2 linked regions of the Homo sapiens genome follow. The protein of the gene in region 1 interacts with the protein of each later gene in a biochemical or structural test. Each region holds a gene or a part of one and is shown in the gene's direction. Other genes may lie near its edges. The genes, in order: RAPGEF2 and RALGDS.

Region 1 (2,887 bases):
CTTTTTGTTGTTCGTCATTGTTTAGGAAAAAAAGACAAGGATTCTAAGTGAGCTATACTAAAAAGAATAACTATGATAGTTTTATTTAGCACATCAGTGAATATATTCTCTATAGCACAAGAAATTACTTGCTTGCTCATTGATTTCTTTTTCTTCCCTGCTGTATTTGCAGAAGATGAACAAGTTTCTGCTGTTTGAGGCACAGACTTTTCTGGAAGCAGAGCGAGCCACCTGAAAGGAGAGCACAAGAAGACGTCCTGAGCATTGGAGCCTTGGAACTCACATTCTGAGGACGGTGGACCAGTTTGCCTCCTTCCCTGCCTTAAAAGCAGCATGGGGCTTCTTCTCCCCTTCTTCCTTTCCCCTTTGCATGTGAAATACTGTGAAGAAATTGCCCTGGCACTTTTCAGACTTTGTTGCTTGAAATGCACAGTGCAGCAATCTTCGAGCTCCCACTGTTGCTGCCTGCCACATCACACAGTATCATTCCAAATTCCAAGATCATCACAACAAGATGATTCACTCTGGCTGCACTTCTCAATGCCTGGAAGGATTTTTTTTAATCTTCCTTTTAGATTTCAATCCAGTCCTAGCACTTGATCTCATTGGGATAATGAGAAAAGCTAGCCATTGAACTACTTGGGGCCTTTAACCCACCAAGGAAGACAAAGAAAAACAATGAAATCCTTTGAGTACAGTGCTTGTCCACTTGTTTACAATGTCCTCCTTTTAAAAAAAAAAAATGAGTTTAAAGATTTTGTTCAGAGAGTAAATATATATCCATTTAATGATTACAGTATTATTTTAAACCTTAAGTAGGGTTGCCAGCCTGGTTTCTGAAAAACCAAATATGCCGGACAGGGTGTGGCCACACCAAGAAGACGGGAAGACCTGGCTTGTGACCCTGGCTTCCCATGTCCTTCTGGTCTCACCCGCGAAGTGCCCTATCCTGGAAGTATGAAATGTTAGCCAATTAATACCAAGACACCTCATCTGCTCCTTCCCCAGTGGATGGGGTTCTTCTGTAAAACTGTTTGCACATGGCCAGGGGAGGGAACTAGGACCCTTGTGTCCTGTCTGAGCCTTATGGAGGCAGGACGGTGTCATTGGCGGATGTGTCCTGCTCCATTGAGATGGATGGCAAACCCCATTTTTAAGTTATATTTCTTTGATTTTTGTTAATTTAGAGGTGTAGGTTTTGTTTTTTGTTTTTTTGTTTTTTTTTAAGAGAAACATTTATAACTGGATAGCATTGCAGTGAAAGCAGCTTGGGATGTTGGAGCTAATGCCAGCTGTTTATACTGCTCTTTCAAGACAGCCTCCCTTTATTGAATTGGCATTAGGGAATAAACAAGCCTTTAAACGTGATAAAAGATCAAAAACCTGGTTAGACATGCCAGCCTTTGCAAGGCAGGTTAGTCACCAAAGACTAACCTCCAAGTGGCTTTATGGACGCTGCATATAGAGAAGGCCTAAGTGTAGCAACCATCTGCTCACAGCTGCTATTAACCCTATAATGACTGAAATGACCCCTCCACTCTATTTTTGTGTTGTTTTGCACAGACTCCGGAAAAGTGAAGGCTGCCAATCTGAGTAGTACTCAAATGTGAGGAACTGCTGGTCTTGGATTTTTTTTCCATTAAATTCAGCTGATCATATTGATCAGTAGATAAACGTAAATAGCTTCAAATTTTAAAAGTGGAATTGCAGTGTTTTTTCACTGTATCAAACAATGTCAGTGCTTTATTTAATAATTCTCTTCTGTATCATGGCATTTGTCTACTTGCTTATTACATTGTCAATTATGCATTTGTAATTTTACATGTAATATGCATTATTTGCCAGTTTTATTATATAGGCTATGGACCTCATGTGCATATAGAAAGACAGAAATCTAGCTCTACCACAAGTTGCACAAATGTTATCTAAGCATTAAGTAATTGTAGAACATAGGACTGCTAATCTCAGTTCGCTCTGTGATGTCAAGTGCAGAATGTACAATTAACTGGTGATTTCCTCATACTTTTGATACTACTTGTACCTGTATGTCTTTTAGAAAGACATTGGTGGAGTCTGTATCCCTTTTGTATTTTTAATACAATAATTGTACATATTGGTTATATTTTTGTTGAAGATGGTAGAAATGTACTATGTTTATGCTTCTACATCCAGTTTGTACAAGCTGGAAAATAAATAAATATAACATAAAGCCTTGCCTATATTCTTAATGAATCATGCATGCTTTTTATTATTAAATTGGAATAGAAGCCTTTCGTCTCCTGCAGAAGCAAGTCCTTCGGCTGGAGAGATTTAGCCTCATGGTTATTGGAAACTGCCCAATAGCCTATTTATTTTAGGCAGATCTCTGTTGATCCAAAGCAATTAATATCATTAACGTTAGCACCAGCCAAACCATGTTCAGAATTCAGTGTTTCTTGAAAATGAAGATGCTGTCACAATATATTTGCATAACATTTGTCTCTTCTCAACCGTTTCCAACAATAATCTTTATGGTACGTAATATTTTGGTTCCCAGTATACATACTGAGAGACAGGACCTCAGAGAAACTGACATTCAAGGTCATGATTATTAAGTGGAGAGTACAATTTAGCTAGTGATTCTGGACTTCTAACTAGTACACAATATGAGTGCTGATGTGTGGTAAGTCTGAATAATACTTTAGTCTATCAGAAGGGCACTTAATTTTAAAAGGTAAAAACCAGTAAGTAGCAGCCTGCTTACGCACATGTTTAAATGAGTGACTCATTTCTTTTCCTCAAGCAAGCATAACTAAAAGTATTAGCCATCAGCCACTGAGAAGTCTCAGAAGTCAGAGTGGAAGCAACTGGAAGCAGAGGCACCAAACACTGGAACATGTGAGGGAGC
Region 2 (7,696 bases), on another chromosome or scaffold:
GAGCCTCAGAGGCATCAGAGGGTGAGTCTCAAGCTGTGTCCTTTTTCTTCTTTTTTTGAGACGGAGTCTTGCTTTGTCGCCCAGGCTGGAGTGCGGTGGTGCAATCTCGGCTCACTGCAACCTCCACCTCCCAGGTTCAAGCGATTCTCCTGCCTCAGCCTCCCAAGTAGCTGGGATTACAGGCACGCGTCACCATGCCAGGCTAATTTTTTTGTATTTTTAGTAGAGATGAGGTTTTACCACGTTGGCCAGGCTGGTCTTGAACTCCTGACCTCAAGTGATCCACCCAGCTCAACCTCCCAAAGTGCTGGAATTACAGGCGTGAGCCACTGCGTCTGGCCATTTTTCTTCTTATAACTTTTATTATGGATAATTCCAAATAGACACAAAAATAGAGAAAATGGCATAAAGACCCCCAGCTTTCACGACCATCGGTGCAGGGCCACTCTTGTTCACCTCTCACTGCCCCACTCCCTGCCCGCCCCTGGAGATGTTTACATGAATCCCAGGCATGTGATGCCATCCACAGATAGCCCAAGATGTAACTCTACTAGTGACGGCAACACCATTCTCACACCTAAAAAGATGTCTAATGTCATCCAATATGTAGCAGTGTTCAGACAATCCACATGTCTTATAGTTGTTTTTTTTAAACAGTTGTCTTGCTGACATCATGATCCAAAATCCACACATTGCATTTGTTAGACGTCTCTGACCCTTCTTTTAGTCTAGTTTCCCCTTTCTTTTTCCTCTGAAATGTATTTGTTGAAGAAACTGGGTTGTTTGTCCCATAGAGGTTCCCACAGCCTGGATTTGTGGATTGCACCCTTGTGGTGTGTTGAACATGTTTCTCTGTCCCCTGTAATCCCACAAATGGCAGTTATATGCAGAGGCCTGCCTTGATTTAGGTTTGGGTTTTGAGGAGAACACTGTGAGTGGTGCTGCGTTCCTCCACTGGTGACACACGCTGTCCCAGGATGGCCTTGCCCTTGGTTAGGGTGTCCCCACAGCTTACAGGAGGCCTCAGGAGAGGGTCTTGCATGCAGGAGGCGTCCCATGAATGCCAACCCCAGTTGCTAACAGTGTGAGGCAGAGTCAGGCCCGCCCGATCTGAGGGCATTGGGCAACACATCCTGTGCAGGGAACTTTATCTGTGCCTTCATTAGGGGGGCATGTGTATCTGTGTTTCTGTCTCTATGTGTGTGTATCTGTGTCTATGTCTCTATATCTGTGTGTGTGTGTCTGTGTCTATCTCAAACTTGTTTTTTCCCTTTTTGTGGAGAATGGGGTCTTGCTATGTTGCCCAGGCTGGTCTCCAATTTCTGGGCTCAAGAAATCCTGCCTCTGCCTCCCTAAGCTCTGGGTTACAGGCATGAGCCACCACACCCAGCCTCTGTGTCTGTCTCTATGTCTCTGAGTAGGTATGTCTCTGTCTGTGTGTCTCTATCTCTGCGTGTGTGTCTCTGTTCCAATGTCTCTGTGTGTGTGTCTCCGTCTCTAAATGTGTGTGCCTGTGTCTGTCTCTGTGCGTCTGTGTCTCTGTGTCTGTCTCTATGTGTGTGTGTGTGTGCCTGTGTCTCTGTCTCTATGTGTCTCTGTGGGTCTGTGTGTGTGTCTGTGTCTCTGTCTCTATGTATGTGTCTCTGTGTGTGTGTGTCTGTGTCTCTGTCTCTATGTGTGTGTCTGTGTGTGCATCTCTGTGTATCTTTGTGTCTGTGTGTGTGTGTGTCTGTGTCTCTGTCTCTCTGTGTGTCTCTGTGTGTGCATCTCTGTGTATCTTTGTGTCTCTGTGTGTGTGTGTGTGTCTGTGTCTCTGTCTCTATGTGTGTGTCTCTGTGTGTGCATCTCTGTGTATCTTTGTGTCTCTGTGTGTGTGTGTGTGTCTGTGTCTCTGTCTCTATGTGTGTGTCTCTGTGTGCATCTCTGTGTATCTTTGTGTGTCTGTGTGTGTGTGTGTGTGTCTGTGTCTCTGTCTCTCTGTGTGTGTCTCTGTGTGTGCATCTCTGTGTATCTTTGTGTCTCTGTGTGTGTGTGTGTGTCTGTGTCTCTGTCTCTATGTGTGTGTCTCTGTGTGTGCATCTCTGTGTATCTTTGTGTCTGTCTGTGTGTGTGTGTCTCATGTACAGCCAGAGCAGTGATCAGGCTTCCCAGAAGTTGGGAGGTGAGTCCCAAAGGTAGGGGAACAAGGCAGGAAGAGGAACTTTGTAAAAACAGACACCGGCCAGAGGGACTGGCTAAGTAACGCCCTCCCCCGCCCTGGCTCCTGTAGATGATATAGTCAGATGGGAGGGAGCCAGGCCAGCCGCGTTGGGGGGTTTAGTGTGATGAATTCTTTACTCTTCACCACTCCAGCCTCCTTGGGGCCACCCCTCGCCCCAGCACCCAGGACCTTCAAGGCCAGAATAGTGGTGATTCCTCTATGTCCTCATGAGTCACTTGTCCTTCTGGGCTATAAAACGGGTGGGCGCTTGTTCCCAGGCCCATCACTCAGCGAAGGAGATAAAGAGAGCAGAGGAGATAAAGTCAGTGGCAGGCAGCTTCTGGACTTTCAGTTTCCGGAGGCATTGGGAGCTTGGCCCCAGAAGAAAGGGATGGGAGGAGGAGCTTAGGGCCGAGGGCAGTGTCTCGGTCACCTCTTTGTGGCCCTGTGGGGACCTCCTGCCTCGAAATACGCCTCACCCACATTACCCTCCCTGGCCAAACGGCTTGGAGGCTTCCTAAACAGCCTCTAGGGATCTCCATCCCAAATCAAATCTACCCATCTTGCTTCTTAAAAAAAAAACAAAAACAGGCTGGGCGTAGTGCTCCTGCCTGTAATCCCAGCTCTTTGGGAGGCCGAGGCGAGCGGTTCACTTGAGGTCAGGAGTTCAAGATCAGCCTGGCCAACATGGTGAAACCCTGTCTCTACGAAAAATACAGAACTAGCTGGGCATGGTGGCAGGTGCCTATAATCCCAGCTCCTCGAGAGGCTGAGGCAGGAAAATCACTTGACCCCAAGAGGCGGAGGCCTTAGTGAGCCGAGATCACACCACTGCACTCCAGCCTGGGTGACAGTGAGACTGTCTCAAAAACAGCATTTATCACATAGAGCTGATTATTAAAATACTGATTTTAGAAATTAGAAATTCAGAGAAGTAAAATGAAAACCAGTAGAGCTTCCACCCAGCTGCAACTTACCACCATAATTTTTGTGAAGTAGGCCCTTCTAGTCGTGTGCACATGGGGGTCTTGTTCTGAACGGATGAACTGCCGCCTCACTCCAGTCACAGTGGAAGTGTTTCGTGGGTGTCTGAGGATTGGCACTTGGGAAGGGGGCAAGATGTGCTCGTGGAATGTGCTGTCTGGTCCCGCCCTCTCAGTTTACAGATGGAGAAACTGAGGCCCAATAGTACGGACCAGACCTGGGGAGGTTGGCATGGCCAGGGCTGCTGGCAGCAATTGCTGGCCTCCATGAAGACTGAAGGCTGAGGCCAGGGCAGGCCCAGTGATGAGTGAGGCATGAGGAAGGGTCCCATTCATTCATCCATTCTCCTGGCCCTGCTGTTAAGCCCCAGGCTGTCTTCCTTCCTCACTGGCTTCCAGAAAGAGTAGTTGAGGATGTCCCTGTCCCTGCTTCCCCTTCAGCCCCAGCAGCCCCACTTCCACCCTGAGACCAGGGATGTCCAAGCCACAAGCAGCCCCAGCTGACAGGCCACGCAGCCATGTGCTCTGCCCAGCGTTGTCACTCTTGATGCCTTCCTCCTTGTCAGATGCCTCTCAGCCCCAACCTTGGTGCCTTCCGCTCTCCCCCACCTCCCTGGCTTCCCCTCCTCTGAGGGTGTCTGTAAGGGGATAGTGTGGGGCTTTGCCCCAAAAAGGTAGGGCCCCACTCTCTGACCCTTTCCCCCACTGCACACACAGCCCCACACTCAGGATTTCCAATTGCACTGACAGGGTCACTGAACACATGGTCAGCCTCTCCAAACTCCGCCTGAGCCTGTAGTCAGGTGCAGGTGCTCAGTGCTGAGTGCTTCATGTCCATTACGTAATGTCATCCTCCCCGCAACTGTTTGAGGAAGTCATTTTCACTACCCAGATTTTCCAGATGAAGAAACAGTGAGGCTCAGAGGGGTTAAGCAACTTGTGGAAGGCCACAGAGTTGGGGAGAGGCTTTGCTGGAATTCGGGGTAGCTGACTCCAGGGCGGCTTCCCCACACATGATCAGCACGTACACATTTCAGCCCTACGCAACACACGCACTGCAGCAGCGTGACACGCAAACGGTGCCTAACCGGGGTACCCAAGGCCCCACGACACACGTGACAGCCGGTCCTCCGGGAGACCCAGCCAACGCGCACCCCTCGACCTCCCCGGCCCCGCCCTCTTTGTTCAGACCCCGCCCCTCCAGGCTCCCGGTCCCGCCCCGGGTCTGACCTCGGCGAGGGCGGGGCCGCGGGCGCGCGCACGCACGCGTCCCTCGGACTCTCCGGTTCCGCCCCTCCCCGGCCCCACCCTCTTCCCCTCCGGCCCCGCCCCCCAGCCTGACATCAGCAGGGCCGGGCCGCGGGCTCACAGCGGTGGCAAAGCCCAGCCGCGCGGGCCGCGCCGCCGCCCCCGCCGCGCGCCGGGCCGGCCCCGCGCCCGCGCTGCGAGCCTTCCATGGTGCAGCGCATGTGGGCCGAGGCGGCCGGGCCTGCTGGCGGCGCCGAGCCGCTGTTTCCGGGCTCCCGGCGGAGCCGCAGCGTGTGGGACGCCGTGCGCCTGGAGGTGGGCGTCCCCGACAGCTGCCCGGTGGTGCTGCACAGCTTCACGCAGCTAGACCCCGACCTGCCGCGCCCGGAGGTGGGTGAGCTGGGGCGGTCGGGCGGGGGGTGCGTCGGAGCCTCCCCACCCGCGGCAGAGCTGGGCAGGTCGGGGCGAGCCCCGGACGGGGCCGGGCGATCCCAGCGGGCCGCCTCCCTCCTCTCTCCTCCATAGGTGGGGGTCGGGGCCTTCTGCAGAAATCAGCCAGCAGGGTGGGCAGTGGGGGCTGCCGCCGCGCCCCGTCCAACAGTAGGGACCACGGCTGGGGTTTTGCGCCCCTCAATACCGTTCCAGGGCCTGCTGTCACCAAGGCCGCTGCAGCCCAGGTGGACCTTTTTCTGCGGCACTGTCCCTGTTTACATCGGTGGCCTGTGCCTTATTTCACTCAGTTCCCACCCAGGGCCCGCAGCGCGTCGTTAGCCTTTACGATGCAGGTGTGGAACAAGTGGTCGGGAAGGCCAAATCCTAGAATCCTCAGAGGTGATGAGACCATAGGGGCCTTCCAGACAGACCCTACTTGGGGCAGATGTGGATCTGGTGACCAGGGACATCGGGGCTGCTCAGAGCGGGGTGGGGGGGGGGTCGGGGGATGGGGTGGAGCAGCAGGCCTCCAACACGTGGGACCAGATGTCCTGGTGGTGAGGGGAGGAGGGTGGCCCAGGCCCAGGGCGGGCAAGACTTGTTTCTGCTTAACTGGAAAGAGTGCCAACACCCTGAATCGGTAAGGACTGGGTAGGATTCAGAGAAGGGAGTGGTGTACCTGTGATGGATGGAGGGGAGGGTGACTAGGTGAGGGCGGGGGCTTGTTTCTCGTGTGCCCTGGGTCTCTGGGTGGTGCCATCTGCCTCCCACCTGACTGCTGCTGACTACACAGCAGAGGGAGTGGAATCCAGAGATGCCCCCCTCGCCCTGCTCTGCCTGGGCACAGGGCCTGCACAGAGGCCATTCCTGGATCGGGGGCTCAGGGCCCATCAGAGCTTTGGCTGGGCTGCAGCCTTCACAGTGAACCTCCTGAGTCCCCGTGCGGCATCGTGTTGCCTTGCTGCGTCTCCAGTCGCTTCATGGCTTTAGACTGTGGCGCGTTGTGATTGCTGGCGATTGTTAGCCTGAGTCTCGTGCCTCTTGGTGTCCCGGTACCTAGACAGGGCCTGGATGCGACTTGTTTCTCCGCCCAGTGTTGGGCAGAGCTCTTGGTGGGGGAACACCACACGCCTGAGAGACCCTTTCCTCCTGAGCTTGGCAGATGGCCGGACCAGACGTGTTCCCTCAACCCTCATCTATCCAGGGCTCTGGTCCTCATTGGCGGCTGGAGAGGGACCCCTGGGAGGGTGGGGGTGGGAGGCTGACACCAGCCCAGCGCTCATCTGGCTTTCATTACCTCTGGCAGCAGCTCGGGCTTTGTGTGCTGGGAGGGTCCGGCGGAGCGCTCACAGTGGCCGTGCAGGTTCCCTCTCTCCGTCCCTGAGGAACTGAGGGAGAGGCAGAGCTGAGCCCCACCCCTGCCTGGGGGTCTTGTCTTCCCTCTCTCTGGCCCTGGCGCTCCTTGCCCAGCCTCAGCACTGAGATCCAGACCTCGACTGCTATTTAGAAATCAAAGGGGAAGCTTCTGGCTGGGTCAGGAAAACCAGGATCCTGGCAGGAGAGGAGGCCACTGCCGGAAACTGAACACAATGACCATTTACCAAGGGCCCAAGGGAGGGGGCGGGGAAGTCCCTGTCCCTCCTGCCAACACCCCCCGTCCTGGGGCTGGTTTCCTGGTGTCTATGTGGCCTGCCAGAGCTGACGCTGCGCACTTGGTCCCTGTCCTCTCTGGAAACCACCAGACAGTTTCTGCCTTCCCCCGCATCCCTGTTTCCCTACCTAGCTTCCACCCGGTGCTTCCCTCTGGGCTGCCAGATCTCCTCACATCTGGGCTTCCGCTTATCTTCCCGATTCTAAGCCAAGCCACCAATGACCCAGCTTGGCCTGCACAGTTCTTGCTTTCTGGAGGTGACCTGGTCCGTGCCCCCATCTCTGGACAGGCTGTTGCTTTGGCCAGACAAAAAGTGCAGGTTGTGGGCCACCCCCTCACTTCATCTGCCTTAGACCAACCCTACAGAGTAGGTGCCAACACCACCTTCTAGGAAGCTAGGGGGTCAGAGAAGGGAAGTCTCTGACCTAAACACCCGTGCAGCCAGCAAGGGCCGCAGCCAGGATTTAAGCATGGGCTGTGTTCTCTGTGGCACCTACTGTGTGCAGGAGCCACCAGGAGTCAGAGGAAGCCCAGGCAGCCCAGAAGCCCTGAGGTCAGGTGAGCAGTAGGGAAGCTTATGGCTCAGAGGAAGGCAAAAGTGCTTTGGGCCACAGGACGCTGGGGAGAGCTACCTGGAGGAAGCAAGCCCAGAACTGGACCCCACAGGTTTAAGATAACAGCTAATAAGAGCCAGCAGGTTTTGGGGAGGTCCTTGGCTAAGTAATTTGCATCATCTCCTTTTGGGGTCAAGACTGTTAAGAGCTCACTTGACAGATAAAGTCACTGAGGCAACAGAGGTGAATTAGATTGCACAGAGTGACCAAGCTGGTCAGTGGCAGGGCCAGGATTCTGACCCAAGGCCTGAGGGCAGTTGCAGGTGGGCTGGAGTGAAGAGGGCTTCTCTGTATTCACAGGGAGCATCTCCCTTCAGCCTCCCGCGTCTTCCCACTGTTTGATCTCTTGATCACACTGTGTGCAGGTCTTCGGTTTAATCCCCAGGGCTCATGAGCACTTTGACACTGAAGACCCCAAGGCAAAGGGCCTGTCCCTGTGTGGGTGTGTGTCCCTGCATGCATGTGTACAGACTGTGGTCTTCCAGGAGAGCTTCCTGGGTGACTCTGAAGGGGCAGCCCCCAGGACCCTCAGGTTCCCCTCTTGCTCTACTCGGGAGGGTCCCCCAGA

Evidence for each region.
Region 2: the proteins of RAPGEF2 (region 1) and RALGDS form a complex in vitro, tested with the Homo sapiens proteins (one study listed by BioGRID).

The regions. Positions count from the first base shown.
Region 1 is NC_000004.12:159,357,942-159,360,828, forward strand, and holds the end of RAPGEF2 (rap guanine nucleotide exchange factor 2), read left to right. Parts: intron 1-172; coding exon 173-198; 3' UTR 199-2,232; downstream 2,233-2,887. UniProt on the Homo sapiens protein: Functions as a guanine nucleotide exchange factor (GEF), which activates Rap and Ras family of small GTPases by exchanging bound GDP for free GTP in a cAMP-dependent manner.
Region 2 is NC_000009.12:133,118,097-133,125,792, reverse strand, and holds the start of RALGDS (ral guanine nucleotide dissociation stimulator), read left to right. Parts: upstream 1-4,552; 5' UTR 4,553-4,638; coding exon 4,639-4,821; intron 4,822-7,696. UniProt on the Homo sapiens protein: Functions as a guanine nucleotide exchange factor (GEF) activating either RalA or RalB GTPases and plays an important role in intracellular transport. Interacts and acts as an effector molecule for R-Ras, H-Ras, K-Ras, and Rap.